Linked DNA regions of Homo sapiens: all the other regions are linked to region 1. Evidence: fine-mapped expression QTL. A gene starts in region 1. Each other region holds a variant in brackets. All regions are shown on one strand. Distances are between the middles of the regions.

Region 1 (2,687 bases):
ATTTATTGATGTATTTTTTTTTGAGTCGCAACCTCACTCTATTGCCCAGATTGGAGTGCAGTGGTGCGATCTTGGCTCACTGCAACCTCTGCCTCCCGGGTTCAAGTGATTCTCCTGCCTCAGCCTCCCGAGTAGCTGGGACTACAGGAGCCCGCCACCACGCCCAGCTAATTTTTGCATTTTTAGTAGAGACGGGGTTTCACCATACTGGCGAGGCTGGTCTAGAACTCCTGACCTTGTGATCCGCCCGTCTCGGCCTCCCAGAGTGGTGGGATTACAGGCGTGAGCCACCGCGCCCGGCCAAGTTTTATTTTTTTAAAGCACTCAAGAAGTTAGGTTTGTTTCTAGAAACGTGGAAGCATCCGTCTGCTTCCTTCCAGCGTCCCTTTGCTTCCTTCCAGCCTCCCAAGGAGCCCAATTCCTTAATTTTCCCTACAGAGAATAGCACCAGGTCCAAAGCAGCCTGAATCAAAGCTCCTCCTTTGGTAATTGACAGCTGAGGGAAATCCTACTGAGGCCCACCCCCACCCTCCTCCTTGCTAGGCTGACAGGCAAAACTCGGTGGCAGTGGCTTCCAGCTCAGCCAATAGACGAAGCGGGAGCAAGAGCCTGTGTAAACAAACCCAGAGTGCGGCGCCTTGGTCTCCTCCCCCACGAGTGGGCCGGGCGCATCCTTGGCCCAATGCCTATCCCAGGCTAGCGTAGCGTCCTTTCAGCCAATCAGAGCCGGCATCTCCCTCAAGGAGGTGTTCCACCACAGGAAAAAAAAAATGAAGGAAGAGAAAAGACAGACATTAAAACCAATCAGAAGCTGAAACTTCTGAGGGAGTGGGCGGGCACTGCTTCACATTTAGACCAATAAAAACCACATATGCCATTCTAGGTGACCGAACGGCATCTTCTTTGGCCCAATAGACGAATGGGGCGGTGCCCGGCAACCAATGGCTTGGGTTCGGGGGCGGGGCGAGGAGGCAGTGTGCAGTAAGAGATAACCTGGCAAGTGGTAGTGGCGCTTCTCGGGTGCTGTGCTTCACGTTTTGGTACTAAAGGCCGAGACTGTTGTGGCGACGGCGACCTCTACGGCAACGGCTTAAGCTCTCGGAGGAGTGGCAGAGTACGATCTGAAGGAGGGGCTTCTGGTTAGCCCAGGTGGGCTCGGGTGCCCGGGCTGCTGGGGAAAGGACTCGAGGGAAACGCCGTTCTCCCGGCTCTGGGGGCGCCCTGCGCCTCCCTTTCTGCCGCCGTCGGGGCTGTGAAGGGCGGCACGCGCCTGCCCGAGCTCCTGTAGGGAGGGAAAGCGCGCGGGGTCCCACGTCGCGGCCATCGGCGAAAAGGGGCGTCCGCTGGGGTCAGCCCCTGCCCCTCGGGAGCAATAGGGGGTTTTCGTCCCTTTCCCCCCCGCACAGGTGCTCTGTTTCCCCCCGACTCCCACCCAAGTTCCTGACTCCCCTCAGCGTCCTCCTAACACTCGAACCGAATTCTTGGCCTGAGTCCCATTTCTACCCAGGTGCAACAATGCTAGGCAAATTGACCCGCGCGGCATCCCCCGCCCCTCTCCCCGGGCTGGAGCGGGAGGGATTGCGCGTCGTGCCCTTCCCCTATTCGCGGCCCCTGCGCGTCCTCTGCCTTTTTATACTTGCTCCATCTCCCCCTTGACTCCAGCCCTCATTCTTCATGCCTCATTTGCCTGGGAGACGTTCGCCACTTCTCTTGTGCCTTGCGGTCCGTGAGTGAGCCCATCACCCCCTACCAACCCCTAAATTCCATTCTCATCTCTCCAGAAAACTAACATTTTCCACTTGCCTCTTCCAGGCAGCTGGAAGGTGAACTGAGAGAGGCAGAATACGCAGAACAGGGAGTTTGGCAAGGTTGGGAACTTTAATGTTTTGTTCCTGGTAGACTGTTTTTGCCTTCAAATGGCATTTGACCATTATACCCGCTCTAGAATCTTTGTCCTAATGCAGTTCTTTTGGTGGTAATTGCTGAAAATGCAGTTGAAAAGGGCTAACTAGAAGCAAGGGATTTAAATTTTGTTACTATTATTTTCAGTAAATTGAATTGGATTATACTTTAAACAGCTTAACTGGGGTTTCTGGGAGTTTGTAGTGTAAGGGCCTGGCTACCCTACTTTGTCATAAAATATAGAACATACTTAGTTGTACAGCACAGTGTGATTCGATCACACCCAACCTATGAAGGGATAATAACAGCATTGAATCTGTCCAAAAACAACATTCCCTGTTCCCTTTTCACCTTCATAGTATATTCGTTTGGTTTCTAGTAATGTCGGTTCTAGCCATATGTTTTTTGATAACAGTACAAACTATGCTGTGCCTAAGTAAAATTATGCCAACAATTTTATGGGGAAAAGCTAATGCACTGCTCTTAGCTTTGATTAAGATTTTAGACGTTTGAAAATATAAATTCAGATATTGGACAGTGAGGGTTTTATTTTGAAGGTTGGAGGAGATTGAAGTGTTGGGGTAAGACTGATAGGCTCCTCTGGCTACTTGTATATCGGGGTGGGGAGAATATACAGGTTTACAAAATCTTGTAAATTCTCACAGTGCTTAGTTTCCTGACTTTTCAAAAATTGGAATTGTTTTTCCTAGCTTTCAGTGGAGAAATGTAAGCTATGAGTTTAACATCATGTTCACTGTGTTTTGGCCAGGATTTTGCAAGCTTTT
Region 2 (2,687 bases), 54 kb after region 1:
CTCCACTCCCCTCCTAGACTTTCTTGATAGAACCAGAAGGGAATGCTTGAATTGGCCTGGACTGCCCAGCCTGTACGGTTCTGGGAGTGGGGTGGGTGGATGGAGTGACCTCCACAGGCCCTCCCAGCTCTGCCCTTCTGTGGTCCTGTGGTTGTGACTGGATCTCCAGGATGGACGTTGACCTTTCCAGGTCTAAGCACTGAAGATGCTTTGGTGCTTCTCCCCAGGAAGAAATTCAAAATAAAAGCAAAACCACAAACCACACAACTTTTATATGCACGCTAAAAATAAAATGGCTTTTTTGTTAAATTTTCCAATTGCAAAAGTCTGAATATTTGAAAGCTGTACCTCCTTTGCCCTCTTTTGAGTCTTGCTCTGTCACCCAGGCTGGAGTGCAGTGGCTAGATTCTGCTCACTGCAACCTCCGCCTCCTGGGTTCAAGCGATTTTCCTGCCTCAGCCTCCAGAGTAGCTGGGATTACAGGTGTGTGCCACAACGCTGGGCTAATTTTTGTATTTTTAGTAGAGACGGGGTTTCACCATGTTGGCCAGGCTGGTCTCAAACTCCTAACCTCAGGTGATCTGCCCACCTTGGCCTCCCAAAGTGCTGGGATTACAGGCGTGGGCCACCACATTCAGCCCAAGCCGGTTCTTTTGTTAACCCTTTGTTCTGTGATCTTTGTCACGCCATCTCTTTTCAAAAGCTGTGTGCTATGTTTTGTTGTTATTGTTGTTGTTGTTGCTGTTGTTGTTTGAGACAGGGTCTCCCTCTACCACCCAGGCTGGAGTGTAGTGGTGCGATCTCAGCTCACTGCAACCTCTGCCTTGAGGGCTCAAGTGATCCTCCCACCTCAGCCTCCTGAGTAGGTGGGACTATAGGTGTATGCCACCATGCCCGGCTAATTTTTGTATTTTTTATTGTAGAGACAGGGTCTTACCATGTTGCCCAGGTTTGTCTCAAACTCCTGGGCTCAAGCAATCCTCCTGCTTCAGCCTCCCAAAGTGCTGGGATTATAGGCATGAGCCACTGTGGCTTGCAAAAGCTGTGATATTTACGGGTTGGGGGGAACATCAAGAAAGTAGAAGCTTGCTTGGCTTGCTGGATCTTGGGAGATTTTGTTGCCATCCTAAGTCTTGGGCCTCTCTCACCTGGAGCTACAGCAGACATTTCAGCCACACCTCACAATCCTGATTTCAGCTCTCCCCTCTGCCACCACATGACAACCAGGAGCTTCATTAGAAAGCCTTAGCCTGACATTGTAACCTTTGCCCTGCATTGGGCAATGCCTCCCCGGGAGCCTCCCACCCTCCACTGGCCTCTATTTGTGACATTCACCTTAATGTTTGAGTGCCAAGTTCCTCCCTCTTGGTGTCCCACATCAACAAATCAGATGAATACAAAAAAAATTACATAATTCCTATGAGCCAACCAGGGGGAAAGTGAAGACCAACCATCTAAGGAAATGGGGGGTGGATTATCTATCACCCCTGGTTCAAGTC[A/G]ATTAAAGACATACAGACTGATCATGGATTCAAATATGGCCTGATCTAGAAGTGTGGGGAAAAAATGCCAACTCTATCAGCTTTGTCCTCAGAACCTGACACGAAAGCAGAGTTCACATCTACTGTCCCGATTCTGACGGAGGCCACCTGTGGTAGGCAGTTCCACTGGTTTGCGCTGCGCATGTATGAATATAGCCTCCAGATCTCCCCCAGCTTCCCACCCTATCCTTCATGCAGAGGTCACTATATGTTTGGATAGATGCCAGGGTGCCACGCGGCCATGTCTGCCAATGGGCAGGGGGACAACTATGAAAAGGCTCTGCACTTGGGGCCCTCAGGGGTACCACTGGCTCCATGAGCCTCCTATGGCAGGACAGGCTGATCCTGGTGTGCAAAGCCTGGTCATCTCACTTCCATTCCTATTCTGGGCCAAGCACTCCTGGGGCCTCAGTCTCCTGCCCCTGTGCCAGCCTATGGGTGGTAGGATTCTGAGGTCCATGCTGGGTTAGAGCAGTAGGTCTCAGCCAGGAGATATTGTCACAACTAGGGAGAAGGTGCTGCTGGTATCTAGTGGGTCAAGGTCAGGGATGCTACTAAACATGCTACAGTGCACAGGACAGCCCTCAGAACAGAGGTCTATCTAGTCCAAAATGTCAAAGAGAAAGCCTGGGTTATGGGAAGGGGTGTCCTCCAGAGAGCATGGCCTTAGATTTTCAGCCCCTCTAAGAATGAGATGTTCCTTGTTTATTTTCTCCATCTCTCATTGGCCTAGTTGTAGGGGAGGGAAGAGTTAGACCAGGGTAGGATCCAAGCACTCCTGATCCTCTGAGCCAAATATGGTTCTCCAGATAGCACAATTTCCTCTAAAAATGCAGTCCGAGATGGAATGGGTAAGAAACCTGCTTCCTTCCATCTTCTAGTACATTGGCTTTAAAAACTCATCGTAAAAATATGAAAAAGACATTTACTGTAGCACTGTTCATAACTGAAAAAGATAAAAAAAAAAAACAAAAAACCTAAATGTCCACTTAAAAGGACCGGATAAATAAATTATGATACATTCATGCAGTGGAATTATATGCAGTTGTTAAAAGAGTGAGGTAGCTCTAAATATAATGATATGAAACAATCTCCAAGACATATTATTAAGAATCCCATGGCCAGGCACAGTGACTCACACCTGTAATC
Region 3 (2,687 bases), 55 kb before region 1:
GATAAGTGAAAGCCTATGTATTAACTGTGGGGCCCTATGCTCCTGTGCAGAAGAGTTCACAGAACATGCCTGAGACTACTATGCTTTGAAAGTCTTACTTGCAAGCTTAGCCCATGGCTGCTGTCTGGTAACTTTGATTTCAGGAAGGTTCCCACCATTCCCTAACAGTGAGTGGCTCACTGTACCTAAACAGTGTAAAAATGTAAGAATAGTGGTTTATGCTGAGCACCTGATTTCCTTCTAGGAGTGTGGAATTATGGTAAACGCTAGGCAGAGGGTGCCTATGTAACCTGCACCCAGTTATAACCTTGCGCACTGAGTCTAAGGAGCTTCCCTGGTAGACAACATTTCACGTGTGTGGTCACAACCATTCAGCACATCCTGTGGAACTCCACTGAGAGAGGACCAGGGAGCTTGTGCCTGGTTTCTCCCAGACTTCACTCCATGCACCTTTTCCCTTTGCCAATTTTGTTTTGTAACCTTTCACTGCAATGAGCCATAGCTGTGAGTATGACTATATGCTGAGTCTTGTATGTCCTCCTAGTAAATCGCTGAACCTGAGGGTGGCCTTGGGGACTCTCAACACATTCCCCTTTCCTGTCCCTACTCCCAGGATTACAGCCTATGCTGCACAGGGCTGGAAGCGTCTCCCTGAATAAACTGAAAAGCCAAATAAAGAGGAAGAAAGACTTCAAAAGGCAGAAACAATCAAGGAAACAAAAGAAAACTCCAAAAACAAAACTTGGAATTAATATCTTTAAAAAGATATGAAAATATATGACACTCATAAAAGCAGGATGCTTTGAAAAGAAGCAATTAGAGAACAAACAGCTCTACAAAATTAAAAATATGATGATCATAATGAAATACTGAATAGAAGGGTTAGGAAGATAGCTGAAAAAAATCATCCAGAGAAAGTGAAAAAAAAACAAAAAAATGAAAAATAGAAGAGATGATAAGAAAATTAAAGGATCAATCCAGGTGGTCTAAAATCCAACTAAAGAAAAAGAGAACAGAATAAATGGAAAGGAATAAATTATTAAAGTAAATTTCATCAAACTAGGGGAAAAAGCGGGGGGAGGTCCTCAGGTTAAAACGGCCCACCAAGTGCAGAGCACAAGAAATGAAAAAAGAATCACACCAGTGAATATGACACAAAA[T/C]CACAAACTTTCAGAAAACCAGAGAGACTATACTAAAAAGCTTTCAGAAAGGGAAAACAACCCATATAAAAAGAAACAGGAAACTTAATTATATCAGATTTCTTAACAGCAACACTAACAGCAGACACACTAGAATTAAACCTTTAAAATGCTGAGGAAAAACTTAGACTTTAAAATCAGCCAAACTGTAATTCAAATGCAAGGGTAGAATAAAGACATTTTTAAGACATGCAAGGACTTAGAACATTTATCTTTTCTTAGAAAGTAACTGGACTAATTGTTTCAGCAAAATGAAGAAAACCAGATTCATGATCTAGATAACAGAAGGTCCAAATCAGGAGAAAGGTGAAGGAAAGTCCCAGGACTATAGCTATGCAAACCTAGACAACTCTATCTTCTAGGTCTTCTATTCAGAGTTCATTTTGACTATCATATTTTTAATTTCATAGAGCTCTTTCTTGTTGTCTTATGGTTTCTTTTCATAGCGACCTGTTCTTATTTTGTAGGTGCAATCTCTTTTGTTATCTCTTTAAATACATTAATCTTTAGGTTTGTTACAAACTTAGAACCAGACCAGATTAGAGTATGAAGAATGGAAGCTATAGGAAGGAAGTTTAAGGAAAAAATGGCATTGGTAAATCCTTACATTTGTTGGCCCATTTGATGGCACTGCAGCATTTGGAAAAAATTAACCACGGGATGAAAGAAAATTAGGTAAATTAGTTTATCATTTGGCTCAAAGGCTAGTCATGTTTACCTGGTCATAATAATATAAAACCTAACTACTAATTTAACAAAAAATTATGACAGAATCTAAATTGGGAGGATGGAAGAAGGATACAGAAGAAAGAGAGAATAAAGAGTTAAATCCTCACTTTATCAATTCTTAATTTATAAAAAAGTAATACCTAAACTATTTAAGTCAAGAAGTGGTTATAAAGTATACTTTTTCAGAAAGACAAAGGTAAATACTAGAAGAAAAAGTTAAAGGACTTCAAAGTGTTTGCCTTCAAGGAGAGAAACAGAGTAAAAAGAAATTAACAAGTGTCTGGTATTTTTGTGGTAAATCTTCAAGAACTGCTTTATTTGTTCAATCATGTACATGTATTACTTTGATTTTAAAGTAAAAATTTTAAAATAATTTAATTATTTAGCCTAGAAGGTTTTACAACCCCTTATCTCATGCTTAAGCACTCTAAGTGATTCCTTTTTCACACAGCAAGAGTGTTGTACCCAATACCCCAACCACAAAGAAAACTCTTTGTCTCTTCAAGGTCCATCTTTTCTGTTTTCTCTTTTTTTTGAGACAGAGACTCACTCTGTCACCCAGGCTGGAGTACACTGGCGCGATCTCAGCTCACTGCAAACTCCACCTCTCAGGTTCAGACGATTCTCCTGCCTCAGCCTCCCGAGTAGCTGAGTAGCTGGGACTACAGGCATGCACTACCACGCCCAGCCAATTTTTGTATTTTTAGTAGAGACGGGGTTTCACCGTGTTGGCCAGGTTGGTCTTGAACGCCTTACCTC
Region 4 (2,687 bases), 69 kb before region 1:
ATGGGAGGGAGGCAGTGAGGAAAGAATTTTGATGTAGTCCAATTTAGCTTTTCTTTCTCTTTATAGTTAGTATTATTTGCATCCTATTAAAAGTCTTCTTATACCAAGGTTATGAAGATATTCTCATATATTATCTTCTAGGAACTTCATTGTTTTGCTGCTCACATTTAAAACCACAACCCACCTGGAACTTTTTTGTTTTGTTTTTTGTTTTGAGACGGAGTTTTGCTCCCGTTGCCCAGGCTGGAGAGTGCAATGGCGCAATCTCGGCTCACCGCAACCTCCGCCTCCCGGGTTCAAGCTGTTATCCTGCCTCAGCCTCCTGAGTAGCTCAGATTATAGGTATGCACCACCACGCCCAGCTAATTTTGTATTTTTTGTAGAGACTGAGTTTCTCCATGTTGGTCAGGCTGGTCTCAAACTCCCAACTTCAGGTGATCTGCCCGCCTCAGCCTCCCAAAGTTCTGGGATTACAGGCATGAGCCACGGTGCCCGGCCTTTTTTTTTTTTTTTTTTAATAGTGTGACGTTGGGTCAAGCTTTGGTTTGATTTTTACTTTGTATGTTTTTTCCTTCCTTTTAAAAATAATAATATCTGATTGTCTCCATGCCACATACTGAAAAAAATTTAATTATTTCCCTTCTTCTCTTTAGGGTCAATTTGCTCATACATGAAGTGTCCAGATATATGTGATTCTGCTTCAGCACTCTCTATTCTAGTCTTTTGATCAATTTTTCTATTCTTCCATTAATATTACACTTTCTTAATAATTACAGTGTCATGTTGTCTCTCTCTTTTTTTTTTTAGTAAAAAAAAAAAAAAAGGCTGGAAGCAATCCTCCCACCTTGGCCTACTAAAATGCTGGGATTACAGGTGTGGGCCACCATGACCGGCCATATTAAGTCTTGATATCCAATATGGCTAGCCTTCCCACTGTTCAAGATTGTCTGGGCTATTCTAGGTCTTTTGCATTTCCAGATACATTTTAGAATCAACTTGTCAAGTTCTCAAAAAAAAAGAAAAAAAACTTACTGGATTTTGAGTTGGGACTGCATTGACTCGGTGAATCAATTTGTTAAGAAGTGAAATCTTTACAATATTGAGACTTCTAATCAACAAAATATGGTATATCCTTCTAATTACTCAGAACTTCTTTACCTTCTCCCAATAACATTGTATGGTTTTCTGCATTAATATTATGACTATATTATGTTACATTATTTAATGTTTACGATGCTTTTGAAAACAGTATCCCTTTTCAAAATTTATTTTGCTTATTCCTACAATATAGGAAAATAATTGATTTTTGTACACTGGCCTTAAATCTGGCAATAATTTAGTAATTTTTTGCATCTACATTCATGAGGAATATTGGTCTGTACTTTTTTTTGTATTCTTTATCTAGTTTTAGAATAAAAGGCCAGGTGCAGTGGCTCATGCCTGTAATCCCAGCACTTTGGGAGGCCGAGGCAGGTGGATCACCTGAGGTCAGGAATTGGAGACCAACCTGGC[C/T]AACATGGTGAAACCCCCCGTCTCTACTAAAAATATAAAAATTAGCCAGGCATGGTGGTGCACGCCTGTAGTCCCAGCTACTTGGGAAGCTGAGGCAGGAGAATCACTTGAACCCAGAAGGCAGAGGTTGCAGGGAACTGAGATCATGTCATTGCACTCCAGCCTGGGCAACAGGGTGAGACTCCATCTCAAAAAAGAAAAAAAAAAAAGTAATTCCTAGCTTCATACAATGAATTAGAAGGACAAAACCACATTATCTCAATTGATGCAATAAAAGTATTTAAAATTCATCATCCTTTCATGATAAAAATACTCAACAAACTAGGAATAGAAGGAAACTGCCTCAAAACAATAAAAGCCAGATACAAAAAACCCACAGCTAACATCATATTCAATTATGAAAAACAGAAAGCTTTTCCACTAAGATCAGGAATAAAACAACGATACTCACTTCAGACACTTTTTTTTTTTTTTGAGTTGTAGTCTCACTCTATTGCTTACGCTGGAGTCCAGTAGCACGATCTTGGCTCACTGCAACCTCTCCCTCCCAGGTTCAAGTGATTCTTATGCCTCAGTCTCCAGAGTAGCTGGGATTACTGGTGTGCACCATCATGCCTGGCTAATTTTTGTATTTTTAGTAGAGACAGGGTTTTGCCATGTTGGCCAGGCTGGTCTAGAACTCCTGAGCTTATGTAATCTGCCTGCCTCGTCCTCCCAAAGTGCTAGGATTACACATGTGAGCCACCAAGCCCGGCCTCACTTTTGCCACTTCTATTTAACGTAGCGTTAGAAGTTCTGGCCAGAGTAATCAGGCAAAAAAAAAAGAAATAAAAGACATCCAAATTGGAAAGAAAGAAGTAAAATTATCTCTATTCACAGATGACATGGTCTTATATGTAGAAAACCCTAAAGATTATACACACACGCACACACACACACACACAACCCCACGAGAACTAAAAAACAAATCCAGTAAAGTTGCAGGGTGAAAAACACAAAAATAAGTTGGTTTCTATACAATAGCAATGAACAATCTGAGAAGGAAATTCAAAACAATTCCATTTGTAATAGCATCAAAAAGAATAAAATACTTAGTGCGAATAAACTTAAGGAAGTAAAAGACTTGTATAATGAAAATTACAAATTGCTGAAAGAAATAAAGGAAGACACAAATA

What was found. PIP is the estimated chance that this variant, and not a neighbour inherited with it, causes the effect.
Region 2: its variant is the best candidate, but not a certain one, in a credible set for the expression of PAIP2B in whole blood (TOPMed, PIP 0.89).
Region 3: its variant is the best candidate, but not a certain one, in a credible set for the expression of PAIP2B in whole blood (TOPMed, PIP 0.59).
Region 4: its variant is the best candidate, but not a certain one, in a credible set for the expression of PAIP2B in whole blood (TOPMed, PIP 0.76).

The regions. Positions count from the first base shown.
Region 1 is chr2:71,225,390-71,228,076 of GRCh38, reverse strand. PAIP2B (poly(A) binding protein interacting protein 2B) reads left to right here and starts at 974. Exons shown (of 4, transcript NM_020459.1): 1 at 974-1,149. RefSeq lists enhancers at 689-828, 1,044-1,544.
Region 2 is chr2:71,171,886-71,174,572 of GRCh38, reverse strand. No RefSeq gene overlaps it. Among named protein-coding and RNA genes, the nearest start is that of MPHOSPH10, 43 kb to the right of the region's middle. The variant A/G (reference allele first, on the strand shown) is at 1,500.
Region 3 is chr2:71,279,970-71,282,656 of GRCh38, reverse strand. No RefSeq gene overlaps it. Among named protein-coding and RNA genes, the nearest start is that of ZNF638, 50 kb to the left of the region's middle. The variant T/C (reference allele first, on the strand shown) is at 1,161.
Region 4 is chr2:71,294,811-71,297,497 of GRCh38, reverse strand. No RefSeq gene overlaps it. Among named protein-coding and RNA genes, the nearest start is that of ZNF638, 36 kb to the left of the region's middle. The variant C/T (reference allele first, on the strand shown) is at 1,513.